Linked DNA regions of Homo sapiens: all the other regions are linked to region 1. The links come from fine-mapping of genetic effects on gene expression. A gene starts in region 1. Each other region holds a variant in brackets. All regions are shown on one strand. Distances are between the middles of the regions. Region 1 holds the start of ATG7 (autophagy related 7). Region 2 overlaps ATG7 (autophagy related 7). Region 3 overlaps ATP2B2 (ATPase plasma membrane Ca2+ transporting 2). Region 4 overlaps HRH1 (histamine receptor H1).

The links. PIP is the estimated chance that this variant, and not a neighbour inherited with it, causes the effect. A credible set is the group of variants that fine-mapping cannot tell apart.
Region 2: its variant is the best candidate, but not a certain one, in a credible set for the expression of ATG7 in whole blood (INTERVAL, PIP 0.74).
Region 3: its variant is the best candidate, but not a certain one, in a credible set for the expression of ATG7 in cerebral cortex (GTEx, PIP 0.70).
Region 4: its variant is the best candidate, but not a certain one, in a credible set for the expression of ATG7 in whole blood (TOPMed, PIP 0.52).

Annotation. Positions count from the first base shown.
Region 1 is chr3:11,268,108-11,276,349 of GRCh38, forward strand. ATG7 (autophagy related 7) reads left to right here and starts at 4,290. Exons shown (of 21, transcript NM_001349232.2): 1 at 4,290-4,323. RefSeq lists enhancers at 3,888-3,937, 3,894-4,485, 4,208-4,337, 4,486-5,075.
Region 2 is chr3:11,443,718-11,451,959 of GRCh38, forward strand. All of the region lies in intron 20 of ATG7 (autophagy related 7), which reads left to right. Among named protein-coding and RNA genes, the nearest start is that of ATG7, 180 kb to the left of the region's middle. The variant T/C (reference allele first, on the strand shown) is at 4,462.
Region 3 is chr3:10,433,846-10,442,087 of GRCh38, forward strand. The region is part of intron 2 of ATP2B2 (ATPase plasma membrane Ca2+ transporting 2); the gene reads right to left. Among named protein-coding and RNA genes, the nearest start is that of MIR885, 43 kb to the left of the region's middle. The variant A/G (reference allele first, on the strand shown) is at 4,259.
Region 4 is chr3:11,227,950-11,236,191 of GRCh38, forward strand. All of the region lies in intron 1 of HRH1 (histamine receptor H1), which reads left to right. It also overlaps the pseudogene CHCHD4P4. Among named protein-coding and RNA genes, the nearest start is that of ATG7, 40 kb to the right of the region's middle. The variant GTTCTAT/G (reference allele first, on the strand shown) is at 4,490.

The DNA.
Region 1 (8,242 bases):
ACAAGAAAGAATTCTGGGACAGTCCATAAAGAGAAAGAAGGTTTATTAAGAAAGCAAAGGAGGCTGGGTGTGGTGGCTCACGCCTGGAACCCCAGCACTTTGGGAGGCCGAGGCGGGCGGGCCACCAGATGTCAGGAGTTCAAGATCAGCCTGGCCAACATAGTGAAACCCTGTCTCTACTAAAATATAAAAAAGTAACTGGGCTTGGTGGCTTGTGCCTGTAGTCCCAGCTACTCGGGAGGCTGAGGCAGGGGAATCGCTTGAACCCAAGAGGCGGAGGTTGCAGTGAGCCGAGATCACGCCACTGCACTCCAGCCCAGTGACAGAGCAAGACTCTGTCTTGGAAAAAAAAAAAAAAAAGAAAGAAACCCCATTTGTATTAAAAAAAAAATACAAAAATTAGCCAGGCATGGTGGTGTGTTCTTGTAATCCCAGCTTCTAGGGAGGCTGAGGCAGGAGAATTGCTCACCATATTCTAGGAAGGCTGAGGCAGGAGAATTGCTTGAAACCAGGAGGCAGAGGTTGCAGTGAGCAGAGATGCGCCATTGCATTCCAGCCTGGGCAACAGAGTGAGACTCCATCTCAAAAAAAAAAAAAAAGAAAAAAGAAAAAAAGGGAGTAAAAGAATGGCTACTCCATAGGCAGTGTGTGGTGGCATGGGCTGCTCAATTGATTATGCTAATAGTTACTTCTTGATTATATGCTAAACAAGGGGTGGATTATTCATGAGTTTTCTGGGAAAGGGGTGGGCAATTCCTGGGACTGAGGGTTCCTCCCCTTTTCAGACTGCATAAGGCAACTTTCTGACATTGCCTTGGCATCTGTAAAAGGTCATGGCAATGGTGGGAGTGTCTTTTAGCATGCTAATGCATTATAATTAGCGTATAATAAGCAATGAGGATGACCAGAGGTCACTCTCGTCACCATTTTGGTTTTGGTGGGTTTTGGCACGTTTCTTTAGCACAACCTTTATCAGCAAGGTCTTTGTGACCTCTGTCATACCCTGATCTCCAGTTTTATCCTGTGAGTAAGAATGCCCAACCTCCTGGGAATGCAGCCCAATAGGTCTCAGCCTTACTTTACTCAGCCCCTATTCAAGATGGAGTCATTCTGGTTCAAATGCCTCTGACAGTAAAGGTTAAGAAATCCTTCTTGGCCAGGTGCAGTGGCTCACGCCTGTAATCGCAGCGCTTTGGGAAGCCGAGGTGAGCAGATCACCTGAGGTCAGGAGTTTGAGATCAGGCGGGCTAACATGGTAAAACTCCGTTTCTACTAAAAATACAAAAAATTAGCCGGGTGTGGTGGCATGCACCTGTAATCCCAGCTACTTGGGAGGCTGAGGCAGAAGAATCGCTTGAACCCGGGCGGTGGAGGTTGCAGTGAGCCAAGATTGCGCCATTGCACTCCAGCTTGGGCAACAAGAGTGAAACTCCATCTCAAAAAAATAAATAAATAAAAAAAAAAGGCTGGGCGTGGTGGCTCACACCTGTAATCTCAGCACTTTGGGAGGCTGAGGCGGGTGGATCATGAGGTCAGGAGATCGAGTCCATCCTGGCTAACATGGTGAAACCCTGTCTCTACTAAAAATACAAAAAATTAGCCGGGCGAGGTGGTGGGCGCCTATAGTCCCAGCTACTTGGGAGGCTGAGGCAGGAGAATGTCATGGACCTGGGAGGCGGAGCTTGCAGTGAGCCAAGATTGTGCCACTGCACTCCAGCCTGGGTGACAGAGCGAGACTCCGTCTCAAAAAAAAAAAAAAAAAGGAAAAAGAAATCCTTGCTGGGCAAGGTGGCTCACACTTGTATTCCCAGCACTTTGTGAGGTGAAGGTGGGAGGATCACTTGAGTCCAGTAGTTCAAGACCAGCCCTGGCAACATAGCAAGACCCAGTCTCTACAAAAAATGAGAAAATTAGCCCGGCATGATGGCATGCACCTGTAGTCCCAGCTACTCAGGAGGCTGAGGTGGGAGGATCCCTGGAGCTCAGGAGGTTGAGTCTGCAGTGAGCTATGATCACTCCACTGTACTCTATCCTGGGTAACAGAGGGAGACCCCGTCTCAAAAAAAAAAAAAAAAAAAGATAAAGCAAAAAAGAGAAATCTTTCTTAACCTTTTTGTGCTTCAGAAAATGTTCACTACAAAGAAATACCCATTCTCATGTCACTTAAATGACTCCTGGTTGCCTCCCTTGTTTACTGTGGCAAGGTCAAACACAGTCCTTCTGAATTCCCATTCTTTGCCTCATAAATGATTACAGAGCTGCTTGTCTCCATTGACCAGTTGGAAAAAATGCTTATTAACCAAACTTGGGTTAAGCTTCTTTCCTTTCCCCAGGCTCCTTACTTTAACCTACTCTCAGCTTGAACTAGCATACTGTCTCATGTGTCCGTGTGAAGAGACTACCAAACAGGCTTTGTGTGAGCAACAAGGCTGTTTATTTCACCTGGGTGCAGGTGGGCTGAGTCCAAAAAGAGAGTCAGCAAAGGGTGGTGGGATTATCATTGGTTCTTATAGGTTTTGGGATAGGCGGTGGAGTTAAAAGCAATGTTTTGGGGGTAGGGGGTGGATCTCACAAAGTACATTCTCAAGGGTGGTGAGAATTACAAAGAAACTTCTTAAGGGTGGGGGAGACTATAAAAGAACCTTCTTAAGGGTGGGGGAGATTACAAAGTACATTGATCAGTTAGGGTGGGGCAGAAACAAATCACAATGGTGGAATGTCATCAGTTAAGGCTATTTTCACTTCTGCGGATCTTCAGTTGCTGCAAGCCATCTGGATGTATACGTGCAGGTCACTGGGGATATGATGGCTTAGCTTGGGCTCAGAGACTGACACACACAACCCCTACTGAGAATAGGTTGGCCTCAAGATAAAACATTCTCTAATCTACTATCTGATCAAGCCACCCCTTCATCCCACTTCCCATATTCGGTTGTTTCCAGCCTTGTTTACCTGCCTTTGGGGAGGGTGGGGGGTGGGGGAACCCTCTTTTTCCCTAACCATTGAAACATCTGCGGATGTTTTGGTCAGAGTGATCTCACTATTGCAATAGTCTCCCTCTGCTATTGCACGGTTCCTTCTCTCCCACCTCTCTCACTTCTTGCAGTAATCCTTTCTTTTTTTTTTTTTTTGAGACGGAGTCTCGCTCTGTCGCCCAGGCTGGAGTGCAGTGGTGGGATCTCGGCTCACTGCAAGCTCCGCCTCCCGGGTTCACGCCATTCTCCTGCCTCAGCCTCCCAAGTAGCTGGGACTACAGGCGCCCGCCACCACGCCCGGCTAATTTTTTTGTATTTTTAGTAGAGACGGGGTTTCACCGTTTTAGCCGGGATGGTCTCGATCTCCTGACCTCGTGATCCGCCCGCCTCGGCCTCCCAAAGTGCTGTGATTACAGGCGTGAGCCACCGCGCCGGGCCTGCAGTAATCCTTTCTAATAAGTATCCTTATTAGTCTGGATTTGTTTTCTTATTTGCCAGAATCAAACAAACTTCAGATTACGTTCCTGGCCCAAAAGCCCTTTAACTTTCAGCAAGCCACCTAACTTTTCTTAGATTCTGTTCTTTCATATATAACTTGGGGATATGTTTCAGGACTCTTGTGAGGATTAGAGATGTAAAACCCTGAAAACATGGTGGCTAGTTAATTAATAGCAGTCATCGCTCTTGTTGTTATGAGTCTAGAGTGGTATATCAGAGTTAATTTGTGAAAGGCCTTACAGGCCAGACAGAGAAACTTGTCATAATCACTGCTGTATCTTCAACACCTGTCCAGTGCTTTGCACGCGCAGAGTATCTAACCAAGTATTGAGAGGGAATAACTTTATCTCACTGACAGTGAGGAGCTGTGAGAATGATGGCTGGTTTAGAAAAGGCAGGTTGGTCACTGTCGACGTTCACTGGCCTTTTCCTACTAAAATTCTCATCTCCTGGCTCTCCACACCTGCCACCCTGATGGCCCCTGTGCTGCGTTTGATGCCGCCTCTCCTGGAGAATGACCATGGTGATCATTCCTGTCATCCTCTGAAATCAAAAGAGAGAACGTGGGCACTTTCTTAAAAGCCTGAAGGGAATGTAGACATTCCGACATCTGGTAAGGGAGACGCTCTCCATCGCTTCCCCCGGGGGCGTCACCGCCCCCTGATGCCCCGCCCTCCTCACGACTCAAGTTCCTCCCACTTAGCTCGGTGCTAGGGGCGCATTTCCCCGGCATGCCTCTGCTCCTTTGCGCACGCGCGCCGCTTCCCAGTGGCAAGCGCGGGCAGGACCGCGTTGCGTCATCGGGGCGCGCGCCTCAGAGAGAGCTGTGGTTGCCGGAAGTTGAGCGGCGGTAAGTGAGCCGCGGCGGGCGAGGGTGTAGTGGGGTCTTGCTGGGCCGGTTTTGGAGGCCTGGAGTCAAGGGGCGAGCTCGCCAGGGAGGGCGAGGGTCACAGCAAGTCTCAGGATCCTCCTCTGCCAGTTTCTGGGTGGTCCTTCCTCCTCCAGGGACTCACTGATTCCGGCTGGCGCCCTTCGTCTGTAGCCGCGTCCCCTCAGACTGGTTCAGTCCGGGGTCTTCTGACTTGGAAGCTCGTGCTGATTTCCTAAGTCAGCCCCTCCTGTCCTCTTGGTAGGCAGTGCTCAGAATCTTCAGTGTTGGAACACGGGAGATGGGACATTTGGATTCCCAGCCTGGCTGTGTCTGGATTTGCTGTCTCTGGCACGTTCCTTCCCCATCTAAGCTGCTTTTCCATCTGCAAAATGGGAATGATAATCCGCCATTTGTTTAAGTGAGGAGGTTAAATAAGTTTACTTTCTGAGAAAGAAGATTCTCGATTCCTTGGTTACAGGGTTAGAAACTAATGCACAATAAGAATCAATCCGGTAAGGTAAATATAGGTGTTAGAACATTTGTCAGAAATAGAGTCAAACTTCTAATTTTATAAGTACAGTACTAACGTACATGATGTTGGAGAAGTACAAGCCAAACCGTGTGTGTGTGCACGTGCGTGCAGTTTCCTGATTTTTAAACACTGGCGACTGATGCCATTTTTTAAAAATTGGCAAGTAATTCTGGCGTTTAAAAACATTGGCAACTCAGTTTTTACAAAACCCTGTTCAACTGTAACCAGTCATATCTGTGGCTGTCAGTTTGGGACCTCTGGATCCCAGACTCCCTTTTTCATTGACTACTTAGATTTTTTTCTCTGACACCTCTGCCCACTGGCCAGATTTCTTCAGTGACAGAAAGCTTTCTACTTCTGGTTGCTCCTGTTTGGTCCTCCCCCAGTTCTGACTCTTAGGTTGAGCTGAAAGCAGCTACTCGGTAATCTTAGCTCACTGTTCCTCCTTCAGGCTCTTGGAATCACCCCTGCATTTAATTGCCCTATACATCATTGAAAGCTGCTAGTTTGTCTTCCTCTTCTCACCTTTTCTTCTCTAGGCTAAGCATATTTAATGTATTTGCTCATAGTAAACTTAACAGTGACAGCAAATTTTGTCATGTTTTGTTATATCCCCAGCATATAGAGCAATGCCTAGCATATTATATATGCTCAATAAATATTTGTTGGATGAATGAATAAAACAAATATTTGCCTGTTATGTGCCTGGCATTATTGTGGGCACTGGTGATCTATCAGTAAAATAAGAAGAAAAAGAACCCTGTTTCATGGCACCTTCTAATAATAGTGGTGGTGGTGGCGGTGGCGGCATTGTCAGTAAGGGTTGGTAGGTGTTTCCGATTCTGAAACGTACAGGGTCATGGGATGGACAGTAATTGGGGGGAAGCATAAAAGCTAGCTAGTCAGGGATGGCTTCCCTGAGGAAGTGACCTAACACTTGAATAAAGAAAAGTCCAGTCTTGGAATGGCTCATGTTGCTAAACTGCTTTCCCATCCCCCAACGCTGCTCCAGTCTTGTTAAGCTGCTTGCAGGTGTGTGTCACCTATAGCCCTTTGCTTCTGCTGCTTCGAACATCTCCCCTTCCTCTTCCATTTATCTTGGCCAACTCCTTCCTGCCCTCATGTGACATGATTTTGAAATCCTTTAAGAGCTGAGTACTGGACTTTCCATTACTCAACCACAGGTTCCGTTTTTCGTTCCCAGCCAGCATCTCATTATAGAGAATAAACATTTATTGAGCTTCAGCTGTGTGTCTGGCACTGCGCTGCAAGCTGGGAATACAAAAATGAGTAAGATACACATCCCTGTCCTCAAAGAGTTTACTTTTTTTTTAAGCCAAGGAGATAGCAACGGTATGGCATGAAGCTATTGCGGAGGTTTGGTAGAGGAGGACTTAGGGTACGCATAAGTCAGGCTGACTCATCAGAGAAGGTTTCAGTGAGGAGGTGCTGCTTTAGCCAAGACCTGAAGGACGAACGAGATCTGACAGGTGAAGAGTGGTTCGAAGTGAGATGAGCAAAGGGCTAGAGGTGAGAATGCATGGCCTGCTTGTGGTTCACTGGAGTGCCAGTGTGGAGGTGTAGGATGAGAGGTGACTGGAAAGGTAAGCACTAGCCACATCGTGAAGGGCCCTGTGGACAATAGCATGTTACCCGCACATAGACTTTGGGATCCAAGATAGCTGCGTACCAATATTCCCATTGCCACTGAACTAGTTTTGTGACCCTGGGCAAGTCACTTCTTTCTAAGCTTCAGTTTCCTCATCTCTAAGAAGGGGAAATAAAAACTGTACGAGGTGATATGTTACTCACTTGACACTGGTAGATGATAAATACTCAATAAACAGTAGTCATTAATATTGCCAGGCCCAGAAGTTTGGACTCTAAAATGTGGGGGCGGGGGTGGAGAGCAGGACACTGAAGATTTTAAAACAGATGCGACATCCTCTCATCTGTTTTAAATTACCCAGGCAGCAATGTGGTGATTACACTGGACAGAAAAAGACAAGCAGGGGACCAGTTGGGTATAGTTGCAGTGATCCAGGTGACAGGATGAAGATCTGGATGAAGGCAGTGACAGTGGAGATGGAGAGGAGTGGGAGGAGTTGAGAGATTAAGGAGGTGGAATTTGCTGGACTTGGTAACTGATAGGATGAAACAGAAGAAGGGGACAAGAATCAGGATCCTGATGACGGGAGGGCAGAAATGAATTTGCTGTGTGGAATTGAGCAGTAACAAAATTCTTTGACTAGTGTCTCTAATAGATTAACCCTGACCTCTGATTTTATTTGGAATTCAGTTTGCCTCTGTCGTCCACTTCTACCCATGGAAATGACGTTCGCTAATGTCTTCCTCTCCTCTTTTTTTTTTTTTCTTTTTTTTTGAGATGGAGTCTCACTCTGTCGCCCAGGCTGGAGTGCAGTGGCACGATCTCGGCTCACTGCAAGCTCTGCCTCCTGGGTTCACTCCATACTCCTGCCTCAGCCTCCCCAGGAACTGGGACTACAGGTGCCCACCACCATGCCCGGCTAATTTTTTTTTTTTTTTTTTTTTTTTAGTAGAGATGGGGTTTCACTGTGCTAGCCAGGATGGTCTCCATCTCCTGACCTCGTGATCCGCCTGCCTCAGCCTCTCAAAGTGCTGAGATTACAGGCGTGAGCCACCGCTTCCTCTCCCCTTTCTATCTCCTGATCTCCCCACCCTTCTCCAGTGCGATTAAGGCCTGATTGTATAATCAAGGGACAATAAATACTGGAGGTGCTGCTCTGTTAATTGGTAGTCAGTAGGTATTACCATGATCTTGGCAGACTGAGGAATAGCCTATTCACTCCATCTCAGACCGGCTTCAGAATGATCACTTTTGGGATTTCCTCACACCTTCATCCCAGTTACCATCCTTGAACTTGCTCTGGTTTGTCAGCCTCTCTTTGAGTGTGTGGTACAGAAAGGAAATCCTCTTTCCTTGAGGACTCTAACCATGCAGAGCAAGACTGCACTTTTCTTGTGGTAACCTAAAGCCCTGCCAGCTCCATTATAGACACATTGTGCTTTTGACACTATTACACTAGTGTGCCACCAAATAGGCCCTCAGCGTGGCTCAGCCCTCCCCATATCCTCAGGCAGCTCTCTTGTCCATTTCCCTTTATGTCTTCCTCATATTCATTCCTCTCCTCAACCTCCTACCTTGACTTTTGCTCCACTAAGTTGCAGCCATTAATTAAGGCATCGCAGCTTCCTCTTCTATCCTTTACCAACTGATCTTTAGCTGACCCTATCCTTTTGCCTTTTATTCTAATTCTGTGAAAGAAATGGTGTTTTAAGACTAAGTCCTCTATTTGTGCTTGAGATCCCATCGCCTCCTTTGCC
Region 2 (8,242 bases), 180 kb after region 1:
TTATTACTTGTGAATGGAGGAATAACTTGAGCTTTAGAAAAGTTAAAGTGACAAAGATCAAGAAAATTTCCCCCCCTGCTTTTTTCTCTTATATTTTAATATTTCCAAATGAGCTATAACATATGCAGAAAAAAGCTTAAAACATTTTATATAGAGAACAAGTATGAATTAAACACCCAGGTCAAAAAATACTCTCGTTGCCCTTCACCCATCTCATATTTTACTTTCTGACCACAGGCCTAGAAGTAACTAGTAACTAGAAACAGTAAACTTTTCCTGTACAACTTCAGTCTGGTATATGGGTCTTAAACAATATAATTCTATTTGCCTGACTTTGAATTTTTCAAACAGAATTATGCTATAATATGTAGATTCTTTCGTGTCTTGTTTTGCCCAATATTGTAAAGGTTACCCATTTGCTGTGCGGCTAAAGTTCATTTTCGTTGCTATGTAGTGTTTCATAATTGGATATATTGAAATTTCTCCTCTACGGTAGCATTTCTAGTCTCAGATTATAATGAAGTGTGCTGTTTGGAGCATTCTGGTATATATCTCCTGGGGTTCATGTGCAGCATTTCTCTGGGTGTTTCTCAACCTTCTTTTCATTATCACTCCTCCTAGGGGGATAATTTAATGCCAACAGTTTAGAATTTAATTAATACTAAAGAATAGGGTTTGTCAGATAGGGCTGAGCTTTGGAGAGCCACTAAACACTGTCATATCTAAGATTTCTTTTGCCTGCCAAAGACCAATTTTTGCTCCTTTGGGGGTGATATCACCCTCTTTGTGAAGGCATACTGTAAGTTATTTATCTCATACTAGAATTGTTGGGTCGTAGAAAATATGCCTCTTCTGGACCATGGACTTAAATGTAAAACCCAAAACTATTAAAACCCTGGAAGACATCCAGACATCCTGGCCCTTACTTCTGGACATAGGAACAGGCAAAAATTTCATGATGATGCCAAAAACAATTGCAACAAAAGCAAAAATTGACAAATGGGATCTAATTAAACTAAAGAGCTTCTGCACAGCAAAAGAAACTATCAGTAAATAGATAATCTACAGAATGGGAGAAAATTTTCTCAAACTATGCATCTGACAAAGGTCTAATATCCAGCACTACAAGGAATTTAGACAAATTTACAAGGAAAAAACCCCATTAAAAAGTGGGCAAAGGACATAAACACACACTTCTAAAAGAAGACATACATGTGGCGAAAAAGCATATGTTAAAAAGCTCATCATCACTAGTCATTAGAGAAATACAAATCAAAACCACAGTGAAATACATCTCACACCAGTCAGAACGGCTATTATGAAAAAGTCAAACAATAGATGCTGGCGAGGTTGTGGTGAAAAAGGAACGCTTATACACTATTGGTGGAAGTGTAAATTAGTTAAATCGTTGTAGAAAGCAGTGTGGAGATTCTTCAAAGACCTATAAACAGAAATACCATTTGACCCAGCAATCCCATTACTGGGTATATACCCAAAGGAATATAAATCATTCTGCCATAAAGACACGTGCACACAGATGTTCACTGCAGCACTATTCACAATAGCGAAGACATAGAATCAACTTAAATGCCCATCAGTGGTAGACTGGATAAAGAAAATGTAGTACATATACACCATGGAATACTATGCAGCCATAAAAAAGAAGATCATGGATGGAGCTGGAGGCCTTTATCCTTACAAACTCATCGAGGAGCAGAAAACCTAATACCATATGTTATCACTTATAAGTGGGAGCTGAATCATGAGAACACATGGACACATGGGAACAACACACACTAGGGTCTGGTGGAGGATGGAGGGTGGGAGGAGGAAGAGGATCAGGAAAAATAACTAATGGGCACCAGGCCTAATACCTGGGTGATGAAATAATCTGTACGACAAGTCCCCATGTCATGGGTTTACCTATATAATAAGCCTGCACATATACCCCTGAACTTACAAGTTTCAAAAAAAGAAAATATGCATCTTCAATTTTATTAAATCATGACTGTTTTCCAAAGCAGTTCACTGACTTACATGAATACCAGTAGTATATGGTAGTTTCTGTGGTCCCTTATCCTTGCCAGAATCTTGGTACTGTCACATTTTAAAATTTTTGCCAATCTGTATAACAGTATCATATTAGGCTTTTACTTTGCATTTTCCTGATCACTGATGATGTTAAACGTCTTATGTATATTACTTATTTGGATTCTTCTTTTCTGATAGTTTCTCTACTTCAACTCCAAAAATTTTCATATGTTATGCTTGTGTAGCCCCTGTGAAAAGAAAGCACAGTAGGATGACCTAGTTATTCACTTGAAAAGTATGATGGAGCCCAGCGACCTTTGTTCTAATCCCAGATGTTTGACTTGGTCAGAGTCCCACACCTCTGGCCCTCAGCATCCTCATTTGCTAAATAAAAGTATTGGCTGGGTTAGAGCAGCAGTTCTGAACCTTGGCTGCCCATCAGAATTATCTAGGATGCTTTAAAAAAATGTTTAGACCACATCTGCACCAGAAAGCCTGATTAAATTGGATTAAAGGTTACTATATCCATTTCAACATTCTGTGATAACGATAGAATAAGTCTTTAACACCTAGATTTCATGGTTTCAATCATCTTCCTTGTCTGCACCCTGAATTAAGTATGCCAGAGACTCTTTATTTGTAAGACTATAATCTACTTTTGTAAATGCGTTATATAAAGGAGGAGACTCCTTAATTTAGTCCGTAGGGGAAACTTGGCGTCATCATTCAAAATACTTTATTGTATCTGGTTTACTTTTAGCACTAAGAAGATTTTCTTACATTGATACCTACTGTGACAAAACACACATCCAATGACAGTGTTAAAATGTCATAAATGAGCCTTTAAAAGAATGAGGCACATGATACATCATGGTACTTGAGCAGACTGCAAGCCTGACCAGACTGAATTCATGAATTCCTGACTTTTGACTTCTTCCTGTAAGATGCTACCCCACTGCCAGGGACTCAACCTCTAAATCCAGTCAAGGGGCTACTTGGGCCTGGAACCAAGGCACAGTCAAGGTGAACCAGCTATGCTCCAGGGGGAGGTGGTTGAAATCACTGGTCTCCTGGACTGGGCCATGAGTGATGGTTATTGGGGCTGGGGAGGTATGAGAGACATCGTGTTGTCCATCTACCTCTGTGTATCTTCAAAGGTCTCTGTAATAAAAAGTTTTCTGAAATTTACTGCCTGACATCAAGTCAGTGGTGTTTTTTAGTGTCCGTCTGTCACATGTAACCATATCACATGTGATCAGTATCTGACACTTGGGTGGCACCTTGTCTTTTTCAGAGGGCATTTACTTGCATTTACTCACTTGATCATCATAGCAGTCATTTTCAGTGAAAAACCTTTTGTAGCCATCCATACCCTGGTTACAAGTGATAGAAACCAAAAGCTTGAACTCTTTTTAGCATAAAAGAGTAATTTATTGGCTGGACACAGTGGCTTACGCCTGTAATCCCAGCACTTTGGGAGGCTGAGGCGGGTGGATCATGAGGTCAGGAATTCGAGACCAGCCTGGCCAACATGGTGAAACCCCATCTCTACTAAAAATATAGAAAAAATTAGCCTGGTGTGGTGGCAGGCATCTGTAATCCCAACTACTCAGGAGGCTGCAACAGGAGAATCACTTGAACCTGGGAGGTGGAGGTTGCAGTGAGCCGAGATCACACCATTGCACTCCAGCCCGGGCAACAGTGCAAGACTCCGTCTCAGGGAAAAAAAAAAAAAAAGTAATTTATTGCTTAATGAAACCAGGTCATGAAATCTGGGCTTCAAGGACTCTAGATGGGGGCATTTAGTGTCAAGACCATCTTAGTGTTCATCAGCTCTGTTCTTTGTTGGCTTTATTCTCTCTCACTACCAACAAGTTCTTTTCTTCCCCATATAGCAAGAAACATGGACTCGGGCAGTTCCAAAATCTCATTCTTACATTAAGAAATCTTTCCTAGTGGCTCCAAAAAGAAAATCCCAGATAAGGACTGTGATTGGCCAGGCCTGGGTCACATGCCATCTCTGGACAGCTGGCAGTAGAAAGGGAAGGGCTGCCATGATTGGCCAGCCTGGGCCAGGGGCAGGTCATACTGATTGGCAGCCTCCCTCAGAACTACACGGTTGGAGTGATGGGGGATGGTCCTCCTCAACAAACTGATGCAGATGGATGGGTGTTGGGCATATATGATAGAAGTCCATTGTAAGTTCAGTCTCCTCTTAGTTCTATTCCTGTGTCTGTTCCTGTCCCTTCCAAACAATGCTGCTTTTCTATCAGCAATTCATTATTAAGGAGTTGAGTGAAAGTCATGAAATTCCAGTCCCCAGATTTGTCCCCAAGCTTGACTCACTCTGCTTTCTGGATTTACCCCCATCTTCTCACCTAACCACAGATACCAGAAAAGAAGTCTTTATTCACTGAGGCTTTGAAAAAA[T/C]TAGCTGCACAGTCTTCCTTACCACCACCTCCAAACAAAGAACTTTCTCTGAGATTGGAGCACAGTGCCTCCTCCTTTCTCCTTGCTACACAGAAGCCTCATTCTAGGCTTTTCCTCCTTCCAGGCTCCTCCATGCTCTCCTGAGGCCACCTCTTGGGGCGGGGAAGGGGAGTGCTCTCTCTGGCTGCTTCTGCTCACCCAGGGTGGACTCAGGAGCTGGAGCCCCTGAGGTCAGCATGAGGCTTCATCTCTCAGCCCAGATGGCCAGGCTCAGTGACAGCATCTCTGCTTCAGGACATGTGCCTTTAGTCTCCTCCATAGTCTAAAAACTTACTTGCCGTGCTGAAACTTGTTGATAAAACCAAATCTGTAATCAGGAACATAAACCAACACAATACAGGCCTTGCACAAATGAGCAGTTGTGGGGTATCATGGGCCCCTGTGGATTATTTGACTGAAGAGAATGATGGAGGCAAAGCTGGTTGTTGTTGAACAAATTGCTGCCAGATGTAGATTTCAATAAACACCACACTGTTGTTCCCCTGCCCGAAGGTGCTATGAATTTCTTGAGGCAACAGAGGCATCAGTAAACGGGGCAGTGGGGTGGGTAAGGGGGTCGCTGTTCCAATATGAATGGAGCCTCCTAGTGTTTTCTGTCCCTGGATGTTTGTCCACAGAATCCAAGGCAGGCCCTGGGGGTCTCTCTCCCCTGCCTGACATTTTACACCAGAGTAATATACTTAAACTGTAGCAACCAGACTCTGTGGAACCTAAAAGAAACCTGGAATTAGGGTAAAAATGTCACACAAAGTCTGTATTGAGGGTTAACTGTAAGACATGATGAACAAAGCACATCATCCTTCCCTTCATTGAACTTACAAATGGGAGGGAGATGAGTGCTAAAGCAGTAATTACAAATAAATAACAGACAAGCCTTCAAACATCCTGTGAAGGAATGCAGCGTGAGCTTGTAATGCAGAGGCCACTGTCTCTGCCTTCACCATCTGCTAACTAATAAGCTAGGTGGGCCAAAATATGAGCCTATTAGCTGGGCATGATGGCTCATGCCTGTAGTCCCAGCTATTCAGGAGGCTGGGGTGGGAGGATTGCTTGAGTCCAGAAGTTTGAGGCTGCAGTGAGCTATGATTGCCACTGCACTCCAGCCTGGGTGATGGAACAAGACCCCATCTCTTAAACCAACAACAACAAAAAACCCTGAGATTTGGGGCCTGTAAGGCCCCAGAGTCTTCACTACCCTTGGTGGCTGTACTTTTAAGGGAATGAAAAGGAGAGAGAGATTGAGATTGAGACTGAGAGGGTGAGAGAGAGTATGATTGGTTTTAGTTAGTATACAAAGAAGCTTCTCATGTTCCATACAATGGAGTGATTCTAGAGAGAATGATTTTCCCGACCCTTCCCTTGGGTTATGGCTCGCTAAATCAAGCATCAGATGAACGCTTGGCATAAATCTAACGTGTGTATTTGGATCACCAGAGAACTATGTGGTTTTCTAATCCCGTTGTCCCAGTTAGATGCAAAGCTTCTGGAGGACAAGGGCCACACCTTTCCCCCTTTGTGCCCTCAAACACTAACAGGCGCTTTGCCATAGTACTTGGAAAAATATATATTAGTTGAATGATAGGACAAAAAAGCGGTTGTAGATGGAAAACGCATTAACTGCTGAGAACACGTTTTCATTTTGAGTTGTCTATAAGAGTTTAAGGGGCAGGGAAGCCCTGGAGTTGAAGTAAATTCAACAGCATCAAGTTTTGTGTTTGGCCCTCAATAAACTAGTCTCTCTGTACCCCTGGCAGGGGGTGGGAGGAGTCCTGGGGGAGCTCCCTTCCAAATCTTACAGGGTGGTCTGTTTCTTCTTTGGATAATAATGATGTAATGGCTAGTCTCTTGAGAACTTGCTGTGTTCCATACATTGTACTAAGCATTTATTTGGATTATCTCATTAAATCTTCACAATCACTTTATTTAACAGATGGAGAAATTAAGGCACATGGAACCTAAGTGTTCAAGGTCATGGAGCCAGTAAGTGTTAGAGCCAAGTCGTTTGGCTCCAGAGCCTGTGTTCTTAACTACTACTTTGTAGTGTCTTTCTTACATATTAGTTGGGCCTGTGTATTGCTAGTTGAATTCCTCTTCCCAGTGGCAGGCCTTCACGTGTTTGACCATGGTTTTCATGTTCTCCAAACCTCAGTTCTCTAGATTTGTACTTTGGTAGGTCATCATTTTCCACAGATCCTACCTCTTTAGGTCAGAAAATCTTGCCAGTTTATAAAGATTCTCTGGGACTAACTCCCACAAAGCAAGGTCACAAGAGATCAATGTACAAATGAAGCAGTTCAGTGAGTTTTGTCTACCATTCTCCATAAGTACATGGGAGACAACTGATGATTGGAAGGTTTGGTGTTCACCTCATGGAGCTGTGATATCTCACTCACCACACAGATCTGCTCTTCTGAGGGACCATCTTGCCAATTTCCAGAGAGTTGCAGGGATATTAAATTTTTGCACATTAAGCTTCCTCTTTCCAAGCTGCACATGGGCCCTGCTACCGTTTGTGAACAGTCTTCTAGAGTGATATAGGTTCTAGCTTTCTTAGTTAAGATCGTATTTTCTGATACCACTCCCTTGTCACTTTGCCTGAAATGAGAAACTCCCAACCTCAACTGCTTTTCTAGTCTCTTCCAATGAATGCCTTCCAAAGGGCTGGTGTCCTCCAGGGTGTATTAGTTGTTACTAATTTCATCCTCCAAGGCTGATCTGATTTTCAAGATCTGTAGAGAGACCTTAGTATATTGCCTTGCCTGTACCAAATACAGTCATTATGGCACAGGAAAATCTCAAATACCTTATTGGAAACCCAGGACAAATATTTATTTGACCTTAATGAAATGAAAAAGACATTGGATGCATACATTTAAAGAAAACCCAAAACTTTGGAATCTTTACCAAGGAGGGTATCTTTTGAAAAGGACAGGCTGGAACAAGAACTTGATAAAATAGAAGTAAAGGTTGACACTTTTTTTTTTTTTTTTTTGAGATCTATATCACTCTGTCACCCAGGCTGGAGTGTAGTGGCATGATCTTGGCTCACTGAAACCTCGGCCTCCTGGGTACAAGTGATTCTCATGCCTCAGCCTCCTGAGTAGCTGGCACTATAGGCATATGCCACCATGCCCAGCTAATTTTTGTATTTTTAGTAGAGACAGGGTTTTACCATGTTGGCTAGCTGGTCCTGACCTCCTGGCCTCAAGTGATCCACCCGACTTGGCCTCCCAAAGTGAAAGTCGGCATTACTAGCCCTGTTCAGCACATGAGACAGGGCACTGGATGGTGTCTACCTAATGATTTTCAACCCAGGGGCCCTTGGCCCAAGCGTATCACTGGTATAAAGGGCCTCTGCCAGCTAATGTGAGGGTGAGTGTGGCTGTTGTGTCCATGAGAGAACTCCTGGGAGTTCTACACTCAGCAAACGTTTGTTGTTGGACTATGAAGGCGGACACAGATTTTATACGAATTTGTAATGCTAACATCTAGCATAAGAATTGGCAACCATAGAAAATATTACGTGTATATATATGTTTATAGTCTCAAAAAAAAAAAAAACAAATTAAAAAAACCCCAGGCTGCCCTGTCTCTCTCTATCTCTCTCTCTATATATATATACGCCTTTACATACACACACACACACAGACACACACACACACAGACACACACACACACACATATACATATCTCTTAAATGAGATTCTATTTTTGTGAAGTG
Region 3 (8,242 bases), 830 kb before region 1:
TCTCAAAGCACTTATCCACTCGATATTTTGTTATTCATTAATTTATTCTGTATTTTTTTTTCTGGACCCCTGGAAGCTTTGTGAAGAAGAATATCTTTGTTGGTTTTGCTCACTGCTATATACCTAGCTCCTAGGACAGCATCTAGCACCAAGTAGTTACCCAATAAATTGTTCTTTAAAGTGTAAAAAAAAAAATGCAGCAGCTTATTTGAATTAGTAAATGAATGCAGTGATTCTCAGCTAGGGGGTGGGGCATACCCCACTAGGGGATGTGCCAAAATTTCTCAGAGAATAGTAAGAAGCAGAACATCTATACTCTCAGGGCACAACTTAAACATGATCATCATTTATTTTCAGTTACAATCTTTAACTTATTATGGAATCTCAAATGACATTAGCAGACGGGGGAAAGATCTGTAGTTTCAAAGGAAGCTCTGGGTTTCTACAGATTGGGGACTTTGATCTCCTGTGGCCCTGGCAGCCTGTCCCTGAGGCCCTCCTGCAACAGGGTATGGCTGGATCATACCAGGCCTGCAGGCCACAGTGAGGAGTTTTGATTTCATTCTGAGAGCAGTGGGAGCCACAGGGTTTTCAGCAGGTGGTGGCACAACCTGACTTGTATTTAAGTTTACTCTGGCCATAAATGGGAGAGGAAGAAAAAAGGGAGGGGCTTGTAATACATTATTCTCATTTAATTTTCCTAACAACCTTGTAGGTAGGCATATCTGGACCCCTTTTTCAGATGAAGAAACTGAGGCTCAGAGAGGGAAAATGATTCACCTGAGGCCACACAGTGAGTGAGCAGAGGAGCCAATGCTGGACTCCCAGTCTCATGGTGCCCCATGGCCAGGCCCTGTCAAGTAGCTCCAGGGCTGACAGCCTCCAACCCCTGGGTCTGGGACTTTTGATTTATCTACTTATAGCCCATGAGGCCCAGGCCGAGGTGCCCTTGAGGATGTCACTGGCCAGAAGGAGGCAGATGAGTGAGGCCTGGAAATTGGGGTCAAATTCTCAGTTGCCCCATTGGCAGATCAGGTATCTTCCTGGCCCCTCCCCTGGCCCCTCTTCCTCATATTTGGGCCTGAGCCCCAGTGTGGTTTGGAGCAACTGAAAACTTTCAGGCTTCTGAGCCAGCATCCTGTGCCCTCTATGGGGGAAGAGAGTTCTAGGAATGACCCTTCATTCCCTTTGACAAATGGTTAAGAGCACAAGGTCTGGTCTCATCCAGGCCTGCCTTTCACAGCTGTGCGACGTGGGCGAGTCCGTCAACCCCTCTGTGCCTCGGTTTCCTCACATGCAAAATGGGGGTAGGAGTGGCATCTCCCACGTCAGGGCCTGAGCTGTTGACACAAGGTGGTCACCCCCCAACCGGACCATTACCGGAGCATGGGGCAGCACTTTCCCTCCGGCTCCCATCCTAAATCAGATCCCCTGGTCTTCTGCTGGCCACCAGGTGGTCCCAAATAAGGAGGAAGCAGGGGGGTCTGAGGTTCTCATTGAGGGGGTGGTATGGTTCTTCACCCTGGCCACCTGAGCTCCTACATCTTCCTGGAGGGTCCACAGGCCTCGCAGTCAATCATGAATTCACTAGGCTTAGGATGACCACCCTGTCCCCATTTTGAGGTGAGGCCTAAGCCTTCAAGAGCACTTCTCCAGTATCTGGGCCACTCCAGACCTCTGAGGCTCCCATTCACCCTCATCTGCCTTACGGGTATTTGTGAAGACTCTGCCCTAAGATACTTCTCAACTTGGGCTGCCTATGTTCTTTTGGGGGACTTGTAAAGGTGGACTTTCAGGCAGGGTGACAGGTGGGCAGGAGGTTTAGCTCATTTACTTACACTCTGGAGAAGGTGGGAGGGGTTGGGAAGTGAGGAGGTAGAGGTGGGTATGGCTGCTCTGAGCCTCCGTACCTCTCCTGGCTGGGTCCTTCAGTTCACTGTTCTCAGAATTGAGCCCTGGAGCCTTTTTAAAAGACTCTGGGACTTCAAGCACTATGAATTTAAAAAAGAAATAAAAAAGATATTATAAAAGAAAAAACTACAGCTTAAAGAAATTATCAAGAAGAGAAGCAAAGGCCTGTGTTGAGTTTTGGCTGTCCAGTGGCATTCTGCTTTCCTTTAGGGGATTTGGTCTCCCCAACTGGGAAGAGTCTTGGTGACGATCAGTCAAAGTGTCCCCACCTTCCTGGCCTAAGCGTGGGCATGTGATCAAGCTAGGCCAATCACCTCCCAGGGATGCTGTCTCCTGGGACGTAGAATCAGTGATTTGCTGGTGCCAGCTCACACTTGCTTGTGAGAGCTGATGGCTAAAATTTCAGGTATTTTGTGAGCTGGTTGTTAATTATAGCCATCATTAGAAATCAATTATATAAACCTACAATTATATAAATTATATTTTAAAAGGCAACAAATACCCCAAACTTATCACCTCCTAATTATTTTACTACATTTCACTATTATCTATTCTCTCTAGTAGACAGTCTATTGTATCTGCATGGTAGAAATACCGTATAATGGTGTGCGGCTGCGCCTCTCGTCCCAACTCTGTGTTTAATGATGTCACGTGGGTAACGTGGTGGTATTTACACCAAGGAAATCAGCACCCACTGCAAAAGAGGATTCCCTCGCAACTAGAGAGCTGGGGTTAACATTCACCAGCACAGGCTGCTTTGGAATCCTGAGCTATACAAGGACCAAAAGAAGCTTTTGTAGTGGATTTTTCCCAACCTGCAGTTCCCCAAAGGGACATTTACTTAGTGAGTCGTGCCACTGATCCCTGCATGTCCCCGTTTCCTTCTGGAAAATTGAGCTGGGTTTTCCAGCCTTTGCTCCAACTTGGAGAGCCCACTCCTAAGCTGCCCTCTTGCCTCCACTATGCTGCCCAGTCAGCTTCTGTTGTTTACGACCGACGTGCCTTAGTGGAGCGACATCGGCACACAGGCAGAAACAGGCTGAGGAAAGAACCATCACCCCAGTCTCACCCTTCAGCCACAACATGGGGTACATTCTAGATGTTTCCTGCCAGCCCCTTTCCCCTTGCATCTGTCTTCGTGGAGGTGTTGCCATTGTCAGGACATACGATGCTAAACCCACTTTTTCAACATCACATTATTTCTTGAGCCTCATCCACGTGGCTTTGCATTCTCTGTAACAATCTTTTTCCATAATGTCCCAAAGGCACGTGGAGAAGCTAAAAGGTACTTAGTTACTTTCCTAATGTGGGGCACTTAGGAATTACTTGTCTTCTTTTCCCCTTTAGTGTCACATAGAGACGTGGTTGAAAAATCTGGGACTGTGGATTGGGAGACCTGAGTTCTCATTTAGTTTTGTGCCAGATGGCTGTGTGAGGCTGCGCAAGATGCCTCCCTCTCTGGGCCTCAGCTTCTTAACCTATATAATGATGATGATGATAATGATAATAGTAATAGTAATAATAATAATGATGATGGTCTCCACTTCCAGGGGTTTCCTGGGCAGTGCTAAGTGTGTTGACTCACATCAGCTCATTTATTACTTCTCACAGCCCAGGAATAAGAATGATTTCACAGACTGAGTAAACAGATTCTGAGAGGTGATGTCATTTCCTCAGCACAACATAGCTAGTGGGTGGCAAAGCTGGGGTTCAGACCCAGGATGTCTGCCTCTTAACTCTCTCACCACACTGCCACTTCCTAACGCCCACTTCTTAACGCCCACTGAGCATCGGGCTTGGGGGACAGACACATCAGTACAGCAGTGAGCGTGTCCCTCATTACAGTCCGCTTGCTGTCCTGTTCATGTCCCCACTTTACAGAAGCGAAAGCTTCAGTTCTGAGGACTGAAGTGGTTTTCCCATGTCAGAGTGTTCTGGGCTGAATCATGCTCCCCCAAATCCATATGTTGAAGTCCTAACCCTCAGTACCTTAAAATTGTGGTGGTATTTGGAGATAGAGTCATTGTAGAGATAGGGACACTGCAGATACTAAATTAAGATGAGGCCATTAGGGTGGGCCTAATCCATGCTATGATTGACACCCGTATACAAAGAGGAAATTTGGGCAGAGAGACAGATATGCATAGTGGGAAGATAATGTGAACAGACACTGGGAGAAGATGGCCATCTACAAGCCTCCAGAACTGTGAGAGAATGAATTTCTGTCATTTAAGCCACTCAGTCTGTGGTCTTTGGATGGCGTGGCTGAGCTGAGGCTCTGCAGGGAGCCAGGAGGTTGCAGGGGAGAGCAGGGAGGGGGGTGGCGGGTGTCTCTGCCCCCTGGCCC[A/G]TACCCACTGTGTGCTGGGCAAGTCCCTTCTCTCCTGGGTCTCAGTCTCCCCATGTGCACCCTGGGATTACTGAATCAGATGGTCCTTGAAGGCCCTTCCAGACCTGTTGTCTCATGGGTCCATGAGTCTCTCAGGCTCCTATTCCAGCTGCTCTGACCCCACTGAGCTGGGGTGTGCTGAAGGGGGAGGCCCCAGGGAACACTCCATTCTGCTGTTCTTTCCAGCAGAGCTTTCCCAAGGGCTCACCCAACAGCCTGCCCTCCTCAGTGTGGGCCGTTTCTCCTTCGTCCTACTTCCTGGCGACTGCTCTGTCCAACTGCCTGCCAATCCAGTGTCAGATACTCTCATCACACTGTACCTGCATGTGACACTCTCCTCCGACCTCTGACATCTTCTTTGCCTGCTGCCTGCTCTCTCCCTTTGGGGTGGAGGCTAGGGCAGGTGGGTCCTAGGGAGCCATCGGCTGAGGCACTAATTTCCACTGACTATAAATAACTCTGGGTCTGAAACCACAGCAGGGGCCTGGATTGCACCAGGAGGAGTAAGATAATCGTTGTGGGGTGAGGAGGGCCTGTATAAATAACTTACCCGCCCTGTCTGGGCCTCTCGGATGACAGGCAGGCCTGGAGGCAGAGGATCTCTCCAGCTGAACTCGAGGCGTTTGTGGGACCCAGGCTGGGTGGATGACTCAGGTCCTACTAGCATTCGAGACGGCCCGCCTGCAGTTATACAGCAACATTTCTCACCCCTTAGGCCCGTGTGACAGATGAGGAAACTGAGACCCAGGGAGGAGAAGTAATTGGAAACTGGGGTCTAGGCCCCTGGGCTTCTGGGAGCTAGAGAACTGTTGCCAGGGATGCCCAAATTCTGGTCCCCCGCTAAACCCGACCTTTGGGAGCCAGCGTGGGAGGGCCCTGAAGCTGCTTGGTAGAAAAGGACTGCTGGGCCAAGGCCTGGGGCAAAGGGCCAAGGGCCAAGGGCACTGCCCTGGCCTGGGCACTGATGGGCCAAGGTTTTGAGGTCACGAATTTTCAAGTGAAGAGAGGCCTGGAGTCTGGCTGTGAGTCAGCCACCCTTTGACCCATCTGATGTCTACAGAATGGGGGCATCAAGGCAGACAGTTTCACAGTAGTAGAATGTCTGAGCCTGGACAAGCCTCAGAGACTACTAGACCAACCTTCTTTATTTTCCAGATGGGGAGGCTGAGGCATGGAACAGGGTGGAGGGAGCTTGGAGAGGGTCTCAGTCGATAAGGGCCAAAGTCAGGCTGGTCTCCGCCCCTGCCCAGCATGGGTGGACTGAGCACCCTTTTCCTGCACAGTCACATGCATCCCCTTGGGGCCCCCGCAAAGACCAACTTCGCCTAAGACCCCTGGGCCAGGCACATTGTGTGTTCTCTCATTTAATCCACAGTCAGTGTGGCCCCTGGAAGCCAGACAGTGTCTGCTCCATTTCACAGATTTAACAAATGATGCATTAAGAACTTATGTGATCTGTGCCCCAACCCAGGCTTTTGGATACTCTAGTTTAGCATTTTTCTCCAGTATCAGAGGTTTTCAATTTTTTTTTCTTTTTTTCAACACTTTGTTAAAAAACCAAAGTCTTCAAAGCATTTAAAAAGGAGTATCAGGCCGGGCACAGTGGCTCATGCCTGTAATCCCAGCACTTTGGAAGGCTGAGGCAGGAGGTTCGCTTAAGGCCAGGAGTTCAAGACCAGCTTGGTTCACTGCAATCTTTGCCTCCCGGGTTCAAGTGATTCTTGTGCCTAGCCTCCTGAATAGCTGGGATTACAAGCGTGTACCACCACACCCGGCTAATTTTTGAAACCCTGTTTCTACAAAAAAAAAAATTACCTGGGCATGGTGGCACATGCCTGTAGTCCCAGCTACTTGGGAAGCTGAGGTGGGAGGATCACTGAGCCCAGGAGGTCGAGGCTGCAGTGACCTGTGATCGTGCCACCGCACTCCAGCCTGGGCAACAGAGTGAGACTCTATCTAAAAAAAAAAAAAAAAAAAAAAAAAAAAAAGGAGTGTCTCTGTCTCTGGTTCATGGTGGTGGGTGAGAAGCCCCAGAGTCCCATCCATTCAGCATCCCCTTGTCCTGTAGGGCACTTCTGTGGAACCTCAAGGCACTGGGGAACCCAGTGTGAGAACCATTTCCCCAACCTTCGGTTTCCCTGCATTCAGTGAATTCACTGGCTCTCCATGCACCTGGAGAAGGCTGTACTCAGGGCCTCATCTTATGGAGCTGGAGGCCCATTTCACACTCACAGGGACATAAACACTATTATCCAACCTGACAGTCTACATACACAGCATGAACAAACAGACTAAAAACCAGAGTCTACAAAAATGAATCTGTAGTTCATGGGCTGGAGTCCTCTGTGCTTTGCGATCTGTTCTAGGCTCCAGGCACAGCGAATTCCTCACTGTTCCCTGTACACATCCTGGTTGTCATCACAGGGCCTTTGCTCACGCCCCATTAACTGCGTGTGCTTCCCTCCCCATCTTTGCACACTCAATTCTGCCCTGTCCTTTCAGGCCTCACTCAGAGGAAGCTACTCCTGATTTTGTCCCCAATCAGGTGGGGATCACTCCTCCTTCATCAACCTTTAGAACATTTCCTCTTGCAGTAGTTATTTTTGTCAATAGAAAGCAGCAGACCGAGGAGGTCATGTGTGCACATTTGGGAGCCAGACAGTGTAGGCACCAATCCTGGCCAGGTCACTTGTTAGACGTGGTGCTCTGAGCCTCAATTTCCTCATCTGTAAGCTGGGATGATGACAGTTCCTGTTTCACAGGGGTGATGTGAAGATTATAGGAGAAAATGCCGTGAAGCCTCAGCAGGGAGCCTGGCTGCTGTTAGTGTTCAATGCATGTTAATTATTCTCTAGTATCACAGCTATAACTAGCATCGTGGCTAGTAACTAGTAGCACAGCTAGACTGGGACAGTCTTAAGGCGGGAGCAGTTTACAATCCACCTTTGCACCTCCCTTTCCTGGGAATCTATAGGGAGCTTTGGAGAGTAAGGGGATCTGGAAGGGGTTCCTCCTTCCTCCCCCTGGCTACACTGAGGCCTTGGCTTCCTGCCCTTGGCTGCCATCTTTCCTATTGATTCCTGCCTGCCTCTGTGCCCCTGGAGTTGTTTCCTGTCTTTTTGTTTTTTTTGAGACAGAGTCTCACTCTGTCACCCAGGCTGATCTCGGCTCACTGCAACCTCTGCCTCCCGGGTTCAAGTGATTCTTGTGTCTCAGCCTCCCAAGTAGCTGGGATTACAGGCGTGCGCCATCACACCCAGCTCATTTTTGTATTTTTAGTAGAGATGGGGTTCCACCATGTTGGCCAGGCTGGTCTCGAACTCCTGACCTCAAGTGATCCACCTACCTTGGCCTCCCAAAGTGCTGGGATTACTGGTGCGAGCCACTGCACCCGACATTTCCTGTCTGACATCCTCTGCCCCCTTGAACCAAGAAGGGATATCCTTGAAGGCCGGCCCTGTCCCCATCTGCCCACCTGTCCTGTGTGTAGCCACATCACACAGACACTGCCCCTGAGAAAGCATATGGGAGAGATCTGGGTCTCTTCCCAGAAGAGTACATGTGGCCCAAGCCTGCACATACTAGGTGCATAACATATATTTGTCCAATAAATAAATGTGTGTCCACCTCCATCACTGCTTGGCATATTAGAAGCAGGGGGAAGCAATGGAGATGTTCCATCAGTTCTAGGAGGTGGGTGTTATTATCATATCATTTACAGGTGGGGAAACAGGTTCAGAGTGAGGGGATGACTTAAGGACTTAGAAGGTGAAGCTGGGACTCAAAGTCAATGGTCTCCATATTCCTTCCCTTTTCTGGGCACATAGTAGGCACTTAGTGATTAGTGCATATTGATTCTGCAAAATGATAATGCCTTCATAGTAAGAATCAGGGCCCCCTTCCTCTCCAAGCCTTTGTGTCCTACTCAAGGGGCTGCTGTGAGGA
Region 4 (8,242 bases), 40 kb before region 1:
ATTGGGAGTCTTATTCACATTTCCATCTCTAGTGGCTTGGCCTAGCATAATACCTGGTACCACATTATTGTTTAATTAATAGTTCCTGAATATATTAATGAATTAGCATAACATGAAACTCTGAATGTGGTCATGTTGGGTCAGAACTGTGGTGCGTTAAAGGCAGGATTCATCTACTTATTCATTCATCACTTACTGAACTCCTCCTACCATAATTCAGCTTTAGTTAGGAAAGTGATTCACAATATTGGTTGCATTGGAACCATCTGGAGAGTTTTAAAAATCCAGGCCAGGCACAGTGGCTCGTGCCTGTAATCCTAGTGCTTTAGGAGGCCAAGGCAGAATTGCTTGAGGGCAGGAGTTGAAGGTCACAGTGAGCTGTGCTCATGCCGCTGCACTCCAGCCTGGGCAACAGAACGAGAACCTGTCTCTAACAAAATTTTTTTTTTTAATCCTGAAACCCAGAGATACCCCAGACCAATTACACCAGAATCAAATCCAGGAGTGGTGAGTCCTCAGCATCAGTATTTTTTTTAAAGCTCTGTTCATGATTCCAATGTGCAGCCAAGTTTGAAAGCCACTGGGCTAGGTGCTGGAAATATAAGTGAATATCACAGTGCTCCTGCCCTTGTAGGGATCAAAGTCTACGTGAAGGACACCTGAATTCATTCTGTAGAATATAGTGGGCCGAGCACAGTGGCTCATGCCTGTAATTCCAATACTTTGGGAGGCCGAGATGGGTGGATCACCTGAGGAGTTTGAGACCAGCCCGGCCAACATGGCAAAACCCCATCTCTATTAAAAAAATACAAAAATTAGCCAGGCGTGGTGGTGCGTGCCTGTTGTCCCAGCTACTCGGGAGGCTGCGACAGGAGAATCGCTTGAACCCAGGAGGTGAAGTTTGCAGTGAGACGAGATCTTGTCATTGCACTCCATCCTGGGTGACAGAATGAGAGTATGTCAAAAAAAAAAAAAAAAAGAATATAGTGGTAAATGCCTTAATAGAGATATGGAAACAATACTGTGGGAACCCAGAAGAAGAAATGCTTAGATATGGCTAAGGGATACAGGAAAGCTTCAAAAAAGAAGGAACAGTTAAGATGGACGTCGTAGAATAAATAGAAGTTCATTGACATTTTCCTTCCCTCTGCCTCCCTCCCTTCCTTTTTCTTCCCATCTTCTTTATCAACCTTTCCACCTTTCCTTTGTCCTTTTCATTCTTCTCACCTACTTTGTTTCAGATGGGCTCTGAAATAGGCCCATAAGGAGACAATAGTAAACATAAATGAAATGCTAATCTGCAAGACACATCCTCTTCCTGGAGAAGAGAATACTGTGTGTAGAGCCCCCAAAAACTGAAAGAACCTGGGGTGTTTGGGGACAGCAAGTTCATTTTTGCTGGAGTGCTGTGGGTCAAAATATGGAGGAAATGTCATACCAACAGCCTAAGGAGTTTGAACTTTTCCTTCAAGGCATTTAGGAGCAAAACAATATATGACGAGATTTAAGACAGTGGTGTTTACCACATCTTGGGTGTTACCTGAAGTGACTGTAAATGGTACAGAGATGTACCATTAATTAAAATTGACTCTCACAGATTTTCAAGTCTTAACTTGTATATTTCAGTCCTGATTACCTCCAAGAGAGTCTCAATTTGGTGCTGGGAGGTTTTCAACCTCCCATATAAGATGGGTTTTTAACCCATCTTACTCTTGCTAAGGTTTCTCTTTAACAAAGCAAAGCCTTCCTCACAATATCTGGCTAGAATTAAATCACATTGTTTTATTGTCATCTTGTTTATGCCTATGGAAAGTTCTGTAGATAACAAAAAAAATGATAACTTGTTTTTCATACGTGGTAGTGAAATAAACTTAGGCAAAAAAGTGGATCCATTTAAATACATATATAAAGTAAATGGTGGTATAGGAAAGACATAGATCAGCAAGAATTATAATGGGAATAAGTTAGTAACTGAAGGAGAAAAATGTGGATTTAGAAAGATTGCTTGCAGTTGACATGGGTGGGGACTAGAGGGGGTGAGATTGGAAGCAGGCTGGCCAGATAGGGGGCTGTTGCAGTATCCCAGGTGAGAGCAAACTTGAGCTTAGACCAAGTCAGCCTCCAAAGGATGAACAAAAGGAGTAGGTGGCTGGCCTCTAGAAGGCCAGTGACGGACAGGAGACACCAGAGCATGTTCTAGGGAGGTGACACTGACTGAAGTCCACTGGGTAGGTTCAGGGGAAGATGAGAGAGACCAAGTCCCAGGGCCTGACTCCAGGTCTAAGGTAGTGAAAGTACTGGGCGTGAAGACAAGAACTTTAAATTCCATTACTGGCCTTGGGTGCCAAGATGAGCTCATACACAGAAGAATCAAGGAGCAAGAGGCAGCTTGCTGCTGGATCCCAAACCTGGCTGGGCACCACATTCACCAGGGGAGCTATTAAAAAACAGAGTCATCGGCACCAGTCCAGACCTACTGGATCCTACTGAATCGACTAAGCTGGATCCCAGTGTACGATATATTTCACAGTTCCTCTGATAATTCTTATGAACCCAACCTGGATGTAACCACAGTGTAAAAGCCCTTGCTACACAGTGAGGTTCGTGGGCCAACAGCATGAGCATCACCTGGGAGCTTGTTAGAGATGCAGAATCTCTGGCCCTACCTCAGACCTCCTGAGCCATTTTAATGAGACTCTCAGAAAACTTATTTGCATATGAAGGTTTAGGAAGCACTGGCCTAGACCACTGATTTGTTTAATCCTGGCTGCACACTGGATCACCTGGGGACCTTTAAACCATAGTGGCTGGGAATCTGGGAGTGCGGCCAAGGTATCAATATGAGTTTTTTTTTACATTAAGCCTTTTAGGAACACTCAGTTGTAGGAAATAATATAGAGGAATCCTGCATACACTTTACTCAATTTCCTCCAGTGGTAGCATATTACAAAACTGTAGTAAAATATCACAACCAACATATGGACATAAAGACAGTCGAGTACAGAAGAGTTCCGTCACCAATGTTGCCTTTCTATAGCCACATCCCCTTTCCTTCTCACCTCCCCCATCCCTAAACCCGGCAACCACTAATCTGTTCTCCATTTCTGTAATGGTGTCATTTCAGGAATGTTACATAAATGTCACACAGTTAGTAACCTTTTGGGACTGACTTCTTTCACTTCACATAATTCTCTGGAGACTCATCCAAGTTGATGGGAATAGGACTGGTGCATTTCTTTTTACTACTGTGTAGTATTCCACAGTTGGTTGGTTGCTCATTCACCCATCAAAGGGTAGCTGGTTGTTTCCAGCATTGAGCTATTATGAATAAAACTGCTATAAGCATTCATGTTCAGTTTTTTTTTCTGGGCAAATAAGTTTTAGTTTCTTTGAGATAAATGTCCACGAGTGCAATTACTCAAGTTTATGGTAGTTACATGTTTAGTATTTTAAGAAACTGCCATACTCTTCCAGAATGGTTGTATCATTTTACATTCCCATCAGAAATGTATGAGTGACACAGTTTCTCTGCAGTCTTCATCAGCATTTGGTGTTGCCACTGTCTTTTATTTTAGCCATTCTGATGGCTGTGCAGTGATATCTCGTTGTGGTTTTGACTTGCACTTCTCTGATGGCTAGTAATATTGAACATCTTTTCACATGCGGATGTGCCATCTGTATCATCTGTTTGATGAAATGTTTCCTCATATCATTTGCCCATTTTCTCATTGGATTGTCTGCTTTTTACTGTTGAGTTTTGAGAGTTCTTTATATATTCTGAATAGTAGTCCTTTCTTAGATATGTGGCTGGCAAATATTTTCTCCTTGTCTTTTTATCCTCTTAACAGGGTCTTTCACAGAACGAAAATTTTCCTTTTGATGGGGTCCAATTCATTGTTTTTTCTTTTTATGGATCATGTTTTAGTCACAAGTCTAATAACGTTTTGCTTAGCTGTGGATCCTGAAGATTTCCTCTAATGTGTTTTTCTACAAGTTTTGTAGTTTACATTTTACACTTAATGGTCTGTGGAGCATTTTGAGTTAATTTTTTTTTTTTTTTTTAGACTGAGTCTCGCTCTGTCACCAGGCTGGAGTGCAATGGTGCAATCTTGGCTCACTGCAACACCGCCTCCCGGGTTCAAGCGATTCTGCCTCAGCCTTCCAAGTAGCTGGGAATACAGGTGCGTGCCACCGTGCCCAGCTAATTTTTGTATTTTTAGTAGAGACAGGGTTTCACCATGTTGGCCAGGATGGTCTCAATCTCTTGACCTCATGATCCACTTGCCTCGGCCTCCCAAAGTGCTGGGATTACAGGCATGAGCCACGGTGCCCAGCCTGAGTTAATTTTTTTAAAAGACATATGGTTTAGGTTGTTCATTTTTTGCCTATGACGTCCAATTGTGCCAGCACCATTTGTTGAAAATGCTTTCTCTCCTCCATTAAATTAATTTTGCACCTTTGTCAAAAATCACCTGAGAATATTTGTGTG[GTTCTAT/G]TTCTATTTCTTGCCTCTCTGTTCTATTCTATTGATTTATGTGTCTATTCCTTTGCCAATACCACAAAGTCTTGATTACTGTAGCTATTAATATATAGTAGTTTTGAAATTGGGTAGGTCGATTTCTCCCATTTTATTCTCTTTTTCTCAAAATTATTTGAGTTATTCTAGTTTCTCCACCTTTCCCTATACATTTTAGAAGAGTCTTGTCTATATCCGTAAGACATCTTGCTGATATTTTGATAAGAATTGTATTAAATCTGTACGTTAATTTGGGAAGAATTGACATATTTACTCTGTTGAGACTTCCGATCCATAAACACTCTCCATTTATTTACATCTTTGATTTATTTCATCAGCATGTTTTAGTTTTCAGCACACAGTCCTGTACAAGTTCGTCTGAGAATGTGTTGATTTCCCTTTATTCCTTATAGATATTTTCACTGAGTATAAGAGTCTGGGCTGACAGCTCTTTTCTTTCAGCATCTGAAAAATATAATGCCATTTTCTTCTTGTCTCTATGTTTTCTGTGGGAAATCTGCTATCATTCTCATTATGGTAAGGTGTTTTTCTCTGATACTTTCAAGTTTTTTTGTCTTTCATTTTCAAGAGTTTAATTATTATGTGCTTTGATGTATATTTGGGGGGCTTATCCTGTTTGGTTAACAGCTTCTTGATTCTATAGATTTAGGTCTCTTGCCAAATTTGGGACATTTTCAGCCATTATTTCTCAAAGCACATTATCATTGCCACCCTCTTTCTCATCTCCTTCTGGGACTATGATTATATGAATGTTAGATCTTTTGTTATAGTCCCACAGGACCCTGGAGTTCTGTTTGTTTGTTTGTTTATTATCTCTTTTCTCTCTGATGTTCAGATTTGGGAATTTCTATTGTTTTATCTTCCAGTTCACTGATTCTTTCCTCTGTTCCTACCCTCTTGCTTTTGAGTCCATCAATTGGGTTCTTTTTTGTTGTTGTTGTTGTTTTTCAGGTAGAAATCATGTTTCCTTTTAATTGAATACTTAGTTCACGTTTCCTCTCTTGCTGCTACTCTGGTAATAATTAGGTCCCCACCTCTCAAGAACATTGCACCTGACCAGACTGAGAGCCTGTGTGAACATGGGCCCCAAACCAGGGCTTTCAGAATAACAAGGAACAGCCAAGCCAGCCTCTCCCTTCACTTAGAAAGGAACTGTGAATGGGAGGGTCCAAATCTTCATCGTCCAAACACAGAAAACCAGGAGCTCAATGCCAACATGGAAACCAAAATGTATCGGGAATGAAGTACAGTACCCCTTCACATACTCGAGGTCAGGATGGGTTTGCAGAAATCGTATCTGACCATCTGGCCTCTGCTAGTAGAGGCCCCACCCCAGCATTTTTAGGAGAAGATGTTTTTGTTTCTATTACTTGTATTATTTCCCCAAGGGGCATAATATCTACTAAAAGGAATATAATGAATCAGAATAAATCAGCTCACTCACAAGAAACCTTCCTGGGTAATGGTTTTTAGTTGCTGAGCTTATTCAGCACATGATTTAAAAGTGGCAAAATTCAGGGCAATCTGAGAAGAGAATTCAAAAGTGGCGGCCACAGGTTTGGGTAGGACACACATACATACAACTCCCATTTTTTTTCAGTGTATGTGTCAAGAGGTCAAGACCCCTGATCATCAAAATAAGTTATTTTGTATATTACAGTGCACAGGACAACAGAGGGAAAGACACTTTCTTGGAAGGTGACAACAAGGTCTTTTGCAAAAGGTCCACTCCAAAAGGACTGGAGCCCAGTGCCTTGTGGCCTTCATTAACTTGACCCCACCTCTTCTTTGGTTGCAGTGGCCTCAGTGGGAGCTGTTTCTTCTGCTTGTTCTGCTGGCTTCTTCTCTCTTTCCTCTTCCTCATCCTCATCCTCTTGGGGATAGAGGTCTGGGTATTTCTGCAGGCATTCCTGCATGGCCCGGAACCGGTCTACACAGTCTGACCCCTTGATCTCCTCCGTGCTATAGTGGAAGCAGGAAAAGGCTGACTTGAACTGTTCCCCACAGGGGCCGCTGGCCATTCCCCCAAGGCATGGACGGTTCCAGTTAATGTCTTCATTGGTAGTATCAATCCATGCTCCTCGTATGGATCGTTGGGGTCATCAGCCACCAATTCTGCATTGCTTGGAGTTTCATGGTCTTCTTTGGTTATAAATATGATTCGATCCTTCCCTTCCTGCCGGCAGTAGGACATGGCTGCAGCCCTGCCCTGAGACCTTGCAGAAGTGGCGGTGGCAGCAGCTGTAGCTTCACGCCATGACCTCCCTCTCCTCAGGCAGGGCGGGCACCTCTGGGTTCTTATTTCAATTATTATTTCCATTCTAAATTTCCATTGCTGCTTCTTTATATTTTCTGTTTCTTTGCTGAGACTTATTTTTTTCATGTGTCTCAATTGTGTTCACATTTGCATGTTGAAGCATTTTTATGATGATTACTTTAAATGTTTTGGCCGGGTACGGTGGCTCACGCCTGTAATCCCAGCACTTTGGGAGGCTGAGGTGGGCGGATCACGAGGTCAGGAGATCGAGACCATCCTGGCTAACACAGTGAAACCCCATCTCTACTAAAAATGCAAAAAATTAGCTGGGCGTGGTGGCATGTGTCTGTAGTCCCAGCTACATGGGAGGCTGAGGCAGGAGAATAGCTTGAACCCAGGAGGCAGAGATTGCAGTGAGCCGAGATCACACCACTGCACTCCAGCCTGGGTGACAGAGTGAGACTCCATCTCAAAAAAAAAAAAATGCTATTAGAAATCCCTTCTCATTTTTTGATGTGAAAAATGATTTTCAATTGAAATATGGAAATTTTAGGTATTATAAGACCTAGGATCATATTTAAATCTCCTGATTTATCTGCTTTTGACTGACACTGCTGTAGCAGAGGAAGCCGGAGGACACACGGGGAGAGTATGCTGCCTCATTACTTCCAGGTGGAGGTAGACGTCCTGGCTCCCCACTTCGCTTCTCTTGACACTTGAAGGGCGTGGCTTCCTCACTGTTGCTGAGCAGATGTGGGAGCTCCATCTCCCCACTAGGCCTCTGCAGATAAGTCCCCAGCTGGGAGGGATGAGAGTGCCTCCTCACTGCTCCCCATGCACCCCTACTGACACCATGGGGGTGGGTGCAGGGCTTGTCACCACCTGACAGGATGCAAGTCCCGGCTCCCTGCTAGGAATGGCGGGGACGCCACCCCAGCAAGGGGAGTTGAGTCACTTCATTACAGCTTGACAAGGGTGGAAGTCTTGGCTGCCCTCCCCACTTCACCTCATCTGGCTAGGACAGGAGCGGGGCACAGTGTTTTTCTATGGTGTTTGGCTGAAATAGAGCAGGTGTTGTCTAAAAGTTTTCTACTTTGCTAGGCAGCCTCTTTCCCAGTCCTTTGGCTGGACACAGCAGGCTTTTGTTTTGCCTGTGCCGATTGCCATTTCTGAGCTGCCAGCTACTTCAGGTCAAAATCTCTGATGTATGTGGCCAAAAAAAAGCCCAGGGAATTCATCACTGTGTCGCTCATTGGGCCCCAATGTTCCTCACTGCTTTGCCTTTGCCTCTCCACCTGTCAGAGTCTTCTTGTGTTTGCTTTAAATATAACATCCAGAGTTTTAGTTGTACTAAGCAGAATAGAGAAAGTACCTCTACTCAATCTTCCTGAAAGAAGACATCTCAATATGTTTTAAAAGCTTTTGACACAGTGGCTCACGCCTGTAAT